2 separate regions of the Homo sapiens genome follow, and region 2 is linked to region 1. Evidence: fine-mapped expression QTL. A gene starts in region 1. The other region holds a variant in brackets. All regions are shown on one strand. Distances are from middle to middle.

Evidence for each region.
Region 2: its variant is fine-mapped to the expression of PPM1B in fibroblasts (GTEx, PIP above 0.99).

The regions. Positions count from the first base shown.
Region 1 is chr2:44,165,799-44,171,182 of GRCh38, reverse strand. It overlaps PPM1B (protein phosphatase, Mg2+/Mn2+ dependent 1B), which reads right to left and starts at 2,308. Exons shown (of 6, transcript NM_002706.6): 1 at 1,909-2,308. It overlaps PPM1B-DT (PPM1B divergent transcript), which reads left to right and starts at 2,391. Exons shown (of 2, transcript XR_940034.3): 1 at 2,391-3,885. It also overlaps the pseudogene PDSS1P2. RefSeq lists silencers at 1,748-1,957, 2,278-2,607.
Region 2 is chr2:44,243,450-44,248,833 of GRCh38, reverse strand. It overlaps a transcript of PPM1B not described here. Among named protein-coding and RNA genes, the nearest start is that of SLC3A1, 29 kb to the left of the region's middle. The variant C/T (reference allele first, on the strand shown) is at 2,815.

The DNA.
Region 1 (5,384 bases):
AGAAAACGGTGTTGAAAGCTCTGCTGGTCACTTCAAAGAGAACAATCACTTCAACAAATCCAGAGGATAATGTACTAGAAACTGGGGAAATCTTACAGTATGAAAGCTCAAATAAAAATACTCGTGCTAATATACAGCAACAAAAAGAACCACTGCAGAAACTGTTGTAAGACTTCATGAGAGCAAAAACAAATGAAGAGGCGAAAACACAACAACCATTAAGACAAAAAAAAAGACAAAGAAGGCATTGAGAGAAGAAGCACAAAATAAAGATTATCCCTGAAAATGTGTGGACTAAAATATTCTGTTCTAAATACTTAATTTTAAAATTTCGATTAGAACAACACACTGTCCATTTGGCAGACCTACAAAAACATTTCCTTAAAAAATTACCATTACTTCAACTATATTTTTAAAAGGCCTGTACACTTGGAAAAGACTATCATAATAATTAGAATAACTTGTCTCACTATTTACTTAGAAATGCCCCATTTAAAAGTAGGCCAACAATAGGAACTTTGCTATTGCACAACAGAGAAAGTAAATGAAATAACATCTATTAACATTCAGCGTCCATGGCATGTTTCTCCATCTCCTAGAACATACTGTGACTTACACTGTCTACTCTGAACAATTTACCACTTCTTCATCCATGCAGTAGCTCAAATAAAGACAGTTCCTGTGTTAATCCCACAGTAAGCCTCAGTAATTCTCACATCACCGTAGTTGTAAACGTTTGTTAACAGAAAAAGAATGTTTTTCCTAAAATAGCTACATAACACTAAGACTACTCAAATTCCTAAATAATCCTTTTACAACATGCCTGCCAACTTTATTTTGATACATTAAACATGTGGAGCCTATTTTAAAAGCTCTTTAACTGTGACTATCAAAACAACTTCCCAGTTATTAACGTCTCTTTTTAAAAAAGTTTTCAAGTTGTTCTTAGAAGAAATTGAATATTGATGAATTTGGGCTGCTATCAAACGCCTAAGAAGCACTTTTTTTGCCGAATAAGATGGGCAAACGTCCCAGATCTGCTAAATCTGATATGAGAGGTCATGCAAGTTTAAAAAATGAAGAAATAACTATTTCCAACACTCACTGAGTCCTTCATTTAAAAAATTATTTTCGGTGTTATTTTCACACTTTACGTTTAATAATACAATTTTTTCAAGGTTGTTAGGCTTAAACTATGAAAAACTGATTTACCACATATGGCTAGTCAGTCTATACTCTTAATGGGGCTCCGGTAGATTTGGGGTACTGACAATAAGTGGCAGTTTCAATTAAGAACTTCACTGTTAGGAATGACATCCGAAAAGGATGGTGCTAGGGAAGACAGGCAAGAGATGCCGGGGTACGAAGAAAAGAGAAACACACAATTTAAAGCCACTAAGGAGGGAAGGCGAGGGTAGAACGCATAGACAGCAGAGAAAGACGATTTAACAAGGAAGTGAAGTGGAGCGCAGAGTAGGGCAGAAGCTGATGAGGAAACGAATGGTAAAAGATAGTGTTTTCAAACAGGGCATGCACCAGGAAGAGAAGCGCCAAGGCTTGGGGTAGCCCCAGTGCTTTCGTGTGAAAGAGATGCTTGCAGACTGAAGCGGAGGGAAGAGAGAATCAGTCAGCTTCCAGGCGTTCCAGCAAACTCCCATTCTCTCCCTGCGCCTCTCCCAGACCTCAGCCCAGCGGAGGCGGCGGCCGGGGAAGGGGCCTATACCCGAGAGCCAGGCCCGGCGTTCCCCTGCCTAGGCTCCGCGGCAGCAGGGAAAGCAGCGAGGATTCGGAAGGACAGAGGCCCCGGCCGCGGCTCGGCAGCACCGCGAAAACCTGCCCAGGGCCCGGGGCCTCGGCGGCGCGGCCGGTCAGCCGCTTCCCCTCCGGCGGGGTGCCGGGCGGCCTTACCTGAGGCAAGGGAGGGAGAAGATGTCTAGGGCGCCTCGCTCGCGCCCGCCGCGGTACTCAGCCCAAGTTTCCAACGGAGGCGCGACCCTGACTCAGCCGCCGCTTCCCCCTCGGGGTCTCGACCGCCGCCTCCGGGGCTGTTTACACCGCCCGGCCCCTCACGCCGCCGCCGCCGCCGATGCCGCCTTCTCTCCACCCTAGCGCCGTTGCCGATTCGGCCGCCGCCACCTCCTCCGCCGCAGCCTCGTCTCTCTGGAGCATCTTCCAACCACCGAACCCTGAGAATCAGAGACTCCAGCCGCGCCGGCAGGAAACTCCCCCGCAACTGCTAGGGGAACGAGGCCGTCAGAGCACCGGCGGCTTTTCCGCCATTGAGCAGAAGCCGCTCGGCTCCTTTTGCAACCCCCTCCCCGCACCCTAGTCCTTCCCCGCCCCTCAGGGTGCCCCGCCTCCAGCTGCCACCCACTGGGATGCCGCGCGCCCTCTCACGGCCCCCGGTTTGCTGGGAGTCTTGTCAATCACCGCTCCCCCTCCCCGTGCTGCTCCCTCGGCACCTCCGTACTTCGTTTACCCCGCCCACCCGGCCCCGCCTCTGGGTTTCTAATTTCCCATTGGGCATCAGTGGCTACTTTCAATAGGCAAGGTCAGCTGTCCATCAAACACCGCCCACTAAGTGAGACCCAACCCTTTATTACCATTTACTTTATTCGGCCCCGCCTCCGCTAGGTCCTACCTCCCGAACGTCAGGGACCAGCCCCCGCTACCAGCCATAAGTAGAGCCCTCCGTCAATCAAATAACGCCCACCTGCGCTCCTCCTAGCAAAGCCCCGGCCCCAGCGATTGTCTTTTCTTATTGGTCCAACTCGTGATCCGAACCCCCAGTCACTGGCTTTCTTGCGGGTCAGTCACTGAGCCAATTTCCAAGTCCGTCACACCGGCTTTTTTCAAATGAACGCGCAAAAGGCGGGGAAGTATCTGGAAAGCGATTGGTTCGTCCTAGAAAACGGTCAAACCCGGAGAGTCTGTACGGATCCTTTCCGTTCTGTGAGGACCGTGCCCCCTTGTATTTGACCTCTAAGCCTCGCGTAAAAGAAGCGCCATAAGGGACCAACGAGCAGTCCAGCTATAGGTGTGGACGCCTGGTCCCACCCGGAATTGCAGGGGCTTGGCTACTGATTGGCTAAGAAAGTCCTCCTAGGCCCTCATTGGAGGATCTAAACGCCTCTCTTCGGCGTGGAGACGGGAAGGGACGACTCAGACGAGGACAAGAAGTGGGCAGGGGAGAGGCGGTTGTTTTGCTTCAGCCGCGGGTGGGGCGCAGGCGAGAGTGGGAAACTGGGAAGGCCGGGCTCTGGGGAGGTGTTGCGGGGAGGGGAAAGGCCCGGATGTTCCCTAACAATGAAATCATCGCCGACCTATCAGAGCCGCCGAGCTGGGATACCTGCCTGACCTGTACCCCGGAGGGAGAAGAGTGGGCGGGAAATTGGGGTGTCGGAAGAACCTGGAAAGCAACGTGAGAAAGTGGGACAGGTGTTCCCTTCAGGAGGATTTTGTGCTATTAGAGATTATTTTTATACCAGCCCTTGACATTTCCGTATTTTGTTTCTCAGTCGGCATTGATATTAAAACTCCCAGCCTAGTCTCTTGACATGGACTTGTTCATTTCGCAGTTATTGAGCGCCTACTGTTTGCCAGGTACTGTATGTAGAACTGGAGATACAAAAATAAATTAGGCAATCGCAGTACAAGATGATAGGTACTACAATTGAAACATGCACAAGGGCTGGTGACGACATAAAGGGTCTTCCTTGTGCATAGGTTTACCAAGAAAGGCTTCACAAAGACACAGGATGAGTCAAGAATGAATGATAGGGGTTTAACAGGCCGATGGGGAAAGTGGACATGACTCCTCCAGCTATCAAATTAGACGATGCTGCCATGTTAATTCTCCAAACGAGAAACAAAAGTGTAATAGAGGTATTCTAATACTTACCTTAGGATATATATATATATATATATTTTTTTTTTAATCCGAATGTCCTAAAAGAACTTAAACCTATTTCCTACTTTGGTGTAAAATGGTTTGGGCAGACAATTTAAGCTTAGACCCAACAGAGTGCTATTCAGGTTAGGGGCTGTCAATGTTTTATAGAAAAGGGCAAATTTAGTAATAGGACAATTGTCCAGGCCGTCATAAGGACGGCAGAAACAAAGACTTAATTGCAATTCGGGTTTTTTTGTTTTTTGAGCAAGCATATTTTACTTTTTAATAAGACAAATCTGAAAAAGCAAACGCGGTCCAAAAAGCATGTGATTCGGTAAGAGAGATTTTAAAAAACCAAAAAACCGTATCTTCTTTTCACCCCAGATCTTATTAACTGTGTGTTTTCCTCTTCGAGAACTTGTATCGTCAATAACGTCATCGTGAACCAGACTAGCAGTGTGGATCATTTCTGCAATTAAGGCTATGGCGCGGTGGCTGGCTTGCACATGTCAAATTAACAGACAGCAATGCTTTTTAACAGACGCCGCCTAGAACCTTCTCAGCAATCAGCTTGTGAAAATTGGACATCGGATCGGGAGTTGTTATGATGGATATTACATGCTCGGGCCATTAGCACCCCAATAATTGGTCGAAAGGCTTTTCCTTTTCCATCAAAGTAGTACTCAGACATTTCCTGAAGTTCTGTTGTTGATATGAGCAGTTCCTTTCTAATGTCCTCATACAGACCTTTCAAGTCTCTGCAACCGAATTTGAAAGGATCGGTGATCTGTATATTTCTCACCACTGTGTGTTTTACTGTCCGGGGTTGTGTGATAAAACCGTGATATACTGTATACATTTGGACAGGCAGATGTTAAGCGCTTCACAAGACTAAAATAGGGTATCTGAGACAAGCCGAATCCCTTCCGCCTATGAGCCTGAGCGCGGGCGCCGGCAGCGGCGCGCGGCCCTGGAGGCCCTGCAAGGCCGGGGGAGCCGGGCACACCGCCACCAGCGTGAGGCCATGGTCGGAGACTGAAAGTCGCGGCAGGGTGGCGGCTCCGCCTCTGCAATTCAGATTTTTAAAACCTACTCATCAAGTTTGTGTGAGAATGGTGTTTCTTACAGCATGGTGAATAGACCACCAGCATCCGAATCATCTGGGATTCTGGGATAGAGATTCCCAGGTCCACTCATGCCTACAAATCAGGGACTCTGGGGACAAGGCTCAGAAAGGTGAATTTTAAAATAGCTCCCCAGATGATTTTTTTTTTTTTTTTTTTGAGACGGAGTCTCACTCTGACGCCCAGGCTGGAGTGCAGTAGTGCAATCTCGGTTCAGTGCAACCTCCGCCTCCCAGGTTCAAGTGATTCTCCTGCCTCAGCCTCCCGAGTAGCTGGGATTGCAGGCACCCACCACCACGCCTGGCTAATTTTTGTATTTTTAGTAGAGACGGGGTTTCACCATGTTGGTCAGGCTGGTCACAAACTCC
Region 2 (5,384 bases), 78 kb before region 1:
TCACTCATAGGTGGGAGCTGAACAACAAGAACACATGGACACAGGGAGGGGAACATCACACACTGGGGCATGTCGGGGGGTGGGGGGGCTGAGGGAGGGATAGCATTAGGAGAAATGCCTAATGTAAATGATGAGTTGATGGGTGCAGCAAACCAACATGGCACATGTATACCTATGTAACAAAACTGCACGTTGTGCACATGTACCCTAGAACTTAAGTGTAATTAAAAAAAAAGAAAAAAAGAAACTCCAAAACTTTTCCCAACATGATTATGTCATTATGCTTCCACCAGTAATGCCAACAGTTCTGGTTGTTACAAACCTTCGCCAACATATGGTATTATCAGTCTTTTTAATCTTAGTAATTCTGGTGGGTGCGTGGAGTATCTCATTTTTGAAGTTTGTGTTTGAATCATTCGTTTTCTCTGTCCACAGTGCCTTAATATGTATGCCTCATCTCTCCGAAGTGGTGGACCCTGTTTACCTGCTCTGGAGAATGGCTGCCTGTGGCAGACACAGGAGTTGCTCTCACACTGTGCTTCCTGTCTTCCATAGTAACTGAGTTGTAGCTGCGATGCAGCTACTAACCAGGAATAGTTTCTCAGCCCCACACCTTGCACCTACAGCTAAGTGTGGCCATGTTCTCATCAACGAAGTGCGAATAGCAACAAAGTGCACCACCTTCAGGTTGAGGCTTTGAAGAAGCAGGGGTACCCTTCCCTTGCTCTCTTTCCCCTTGTGCTGGTGGGATATATATAACAATAAGGCCCTGGGTGATAGTAGCCACCAGATGCAAAATGCCTCAAACCTGAGTCACCACATGGAAGAGAAGAAGCCTCTGACCTGGAACACCTAGCCTGGTCTATAGATGAACAAGAAATAAACTTCTGTTATGTTTGAACATTACAGATTTGGTTCTGTTATAGCAAGTTAGCTTACCCTGACTAAACTGTTGCCTGTCTCTTGGAAGGTGTGCCCTCCTTCCCTGAAAGTGACTTTTTCATACATGTAATTTATATTTTAATCCATATTCTCCGAAGCATATCCACATCTATTCAACTGTTTCCATGTTTTCCACCAACAGAAACCTCATATAAATAAATATATATGAAGGTTTATTGCATTATTCAAGGTTCTTTAAAATTTTATTGAAGTATAGCATATATACCGAAATGTGCACAAAAATATACACTATCTATATACACATTATAAATAACACATATATCTGCAGAAATTTACAATGCTATCTACATCTGGGGCATTCCCTTCCTTTCTACTTTTTCTCATTTGCTATTTTTTCAGCCTGGTGACTGAGGAAGTCAAGAGAATAAGAGTTGTAGAAGGACATACTGAGTGTGTCACAGGCCCTTCCAAAAAGGCTGAACTCCAGCCTAGGAAACCAAAACTGGTCCTTTAAGATTGCTCAGATGCTGCTTAATTCCTGTGCCACAGTCCTACAGTGTCGCCTTTTTCCATTGTTCTTTTTTTTTTTTTATTTTTTTTATTTAAGAAAGAGGATATATATCAGGTAGGGGAGAATGTAGGGTGCAGAGCTACCTCGTCTCCTCTCCCAGAGGAATTCAAGGCTCCAGGGCTGCTGCTGGCCCATGTGGCAGATTTGGTAAATTGGAAAAACCACTTCCAAAAAAAGCACTTTTTTTGCAAGTCATGTTACTTCCACCTGTCAGGTATTTGTTGCAATATAACTATACTAGTTTCATTAGAATTAGAACACTTTCCTGCCACTTGCTGGAGAGTGGTTGCAACATCTAAGTCCACGTGTCTGTGATGCGACTGGTGTCTGTGGATGAGGCACTGTTCTACCTTAACCAACCTACACTGCTACAGTTGGCCTTCAGGTTGCAGAGCAACTTGTAGTTTTGATTTTTTTCAATGCATCAGGGATATTTTTAAAAATATTTTAATTGAAGTATAACATACATACAGAATAAAAAGGCAGAGGTACCTAAAAATAATAAAACAACAATAAAAACAAAACCAAGAAATCAGCAGTTACACAGGAAGAATTGTAACAAGCTCAGGATTTTTAAAATGCATAAATGATGCAAGCAATACCACAAGCAAAAACCAACACCAAAAATTTGCAAGGACCTAGAGGAATAGGTCAAAGTGAAGCCTCCGCTTAAGCTGGGTTATATGCAAGTGACTTCTGCAAAGAATGTAAAATCCTATGATATCCTTGTAGATAAACTGGAGAAATATGAGCAGATAAGTGGATCAGTACATTGCTGAAATTCTTACCTAATGGGTGTTGAGTAAAAGATTGGTCAATTTGCATCCTACTGAAGAGAAGTTTCTGAGGCCTCCCACAGGGCCTCAGTACTTGGACCTGTTTCATTCAGTATGGGAGGTTTATGTATGAAATTTTGGAGTTACTGGAAAGAAGAAGATAGCTAACATATCTTAGATAAATCCACAACCAACTCAAAAGGTTAATAAATTTTACCCAAGAAAACTTAATAGGAACAAATAAAGGTCCTGCAAAATAGGTTAACCAAAACACCAACCAAAAATAAGCTCGAAGGACTCAAACAGTATCATGCAGTTGCCAGAAAATCTAGTTCAATATTTCGGTGTTAAATAGAAGAACAGAAAAGTATTAATGAGAATAAAGGAGGAGACAGTTCTGCTACCCATAAATGTTCAGTTCTGGGTTGCATACTTTAAGAATGATCAAGAAAATGAGAGCACATTGGGAGAAAAGGGTCCTGGATGGTGAATACAGTTGGCGTTAGGATATATAATGGTAATCAATGAAATAATGGGGGACAGAAAAGAGAATATGCTGGAAGT[C/T]ATCCTAATAGGTGGGGTTAAATTTTGGCCCTATCAACCTAAAATAATCAAAAAGGTCAGAATCTAATTTAAACAGATAATTCAAGCGCAGAGTTTGAGGACAGCCCACCCAGGAGCACCAGCTCCAAAGGAATGGAGTCAGCGTGCTGAAGGAAGGAAGCTCAAGGTTTCATTTCCATAGGCAGAGACAGGAGTTTTTGGCAGGATTGCAACATTTTTCATACAAGGTTGGCACATAGTTACAGCAATTTGGTTACAGGCAGTGTTTCTCTTGGGAAAGGTACACTGAACACCTTTTACAGAGGGTGTAGTCATGGGTTTTCTGTCATCTGATCTAAGTGAAGCAGGACAACAAAGGAGAAGTTAATCTATAACAAAGGTCATTAATTAAGAAGGCAGGTGGTTTTTGTACCTGATGTAGTTTTATTCTCTCTAGTCATTGTACAGAACAGGAAGAATAATCAGGGAAATAAAAAGTTGTTAGCATATGTGACTCAGATCAACTACATCTCTCTCAAGGCTTAGTGTTTTTTGTGGGTTCCAGGAGCTTTTAAATACTTATTTTCATAGCCCCGAGGGTTAATAAGACAACTGAGGAGAAGAAGCAGAGATGCAACACGACAGGCAGAGCTGATCAAAGATGGAAATGAACTCATTCCTGACACTCACACTAGAGGCTGCTGAAAGATCATCTGGCATTCAGGGTTTTCTCAGCTTTGAGATTTTATAACTATATAGTTAGAGATCTGCCCAGCTATAAAATGTATTACTCTATCTTTGAAGCACACACAAATGACAAATCTTCAGAACTACTGTTAAAACTTCTGGGGACACAAAACCACAAATCATTCAAAGAGTTTGCTTTATTGGCTGTTCTCAAATGGGCAAGCAGCTGTGTGTGTGTGTTTTTGGTGTGAAAGCGCCTAGAAAATGTAGTTTATTTTGGCATATTTTTTCTAGTGTTAAAGCAATCAGCATGGATACGTAAATTGTTGATAGTGAAAGACATTTCATTAGTTTAGTATTGTACACTGTTACACCGCTATAGGAAAAATTCTGTCTCAACTGCCAGATTCACGTGTCCCGCCCTAAAAAAGCCAAAAGCCCTAAAAATACATGTGTATATGTATATATATACACATAGATACACACACACACACTATATATGTGTGTGTGTGTGTATATATATATATATATATCTCAAGTAATTATACACTTCTAAATATAGATACTGGAAGTCACTAAAGTAAAAAAAAAAAAAGGTCTAATATATAAGAGTTATTCAGATTTGTATTCGCGTAGAACAAGCCAGTTCCTTTCATATTAACTATGCACACCACCTCCTTTCAGAAGAGATCTGGGAATGATAAAAACCAGTCGGAAGACGGTCTTAACCGTTTAGAAATCCAGTAACTTCCGATTTAAATGGTGCTTTTAGGAGAAGGAAAACAACGCCAGATTAAAGCCTGCCTTTAACCATAAGAGTCCCTGGAATCAAACCAAAAGTGCTGCCAAGAAGCCACAGGTGTTTATCACATGGACAGGAAAAAATATGATTTTGAAGGGCACAGTGACAGTCCTTCTCTGTCTCCACTAATGGGTTATAAGATTAAAGGTTAACAGCAGTACAAATACTATAATTATATAATGCTGGGTTTATTTTTCGTTCGGGTTTACAAAAAAACCTTTTTGTCCGCGTGCTTCTGAGTGCTTGGAAGGTCTGCCAGCCACTGCCTTTCTTGTCACCAGAGCTCTCAGCAGGTTTACAGATGGACGTGCCCAAGACTGCCATCTGGTGGATATGATAGAAATTGAAATATATATATATATATGGTTTTTTTTTTTCTTGCAGGATTGGGGTTGGTAAGTAAATAAAACTAGTTGTCTAAGAAGGTATACATTTAAAATATACTGAGGAGGGGGGTTCACTCATCACAGCAATAAGAAATATAAAATAACAAGGAATTAATTTAAGAACGGTGTAGATCATATGGAGAAAATTACAAAACTGTACTGGGGACATTAAAAACACTTGTATAAATAGAAAGATGTAGCATCTTCCTGGTGGAACTCACCTTGGCTAAAGATACCAATGACCCCTACATTAATCTACACATACAACAATTCAATCAACACATTAATGAGATTTTTATTTGGCAGGGATATCTTGGCCAAGTTATTGAAAAATTCATCTGGAAAAATAAACACATTCAATTTTTGTAAATGTAGAATAATAAGGGGCATTTTCCCTATCAGATAATAAAATGTATAGTAAAACTATGATAATTAAGATGACATGGTACTGACACACAACACAAAACGATAAAATAGAATGCTTATAAAAATACAAGCATATACATGAATATGTCATAAAGGACAACTTCAAATAATGAGAAAAGATTGGCTTATGTAACAGCTGGTATAAAGGGATAATGGAAAAATCTATAGGAAAATGTTATATTAGATTTTTACCTCAGAAATAAGTTCCAGTTGTATTAAAGTACAAATATTCAAAAGGCCAATGTCTTAAAATATATGTAAATATTTACTTAGGATATAAAAAATTGTCT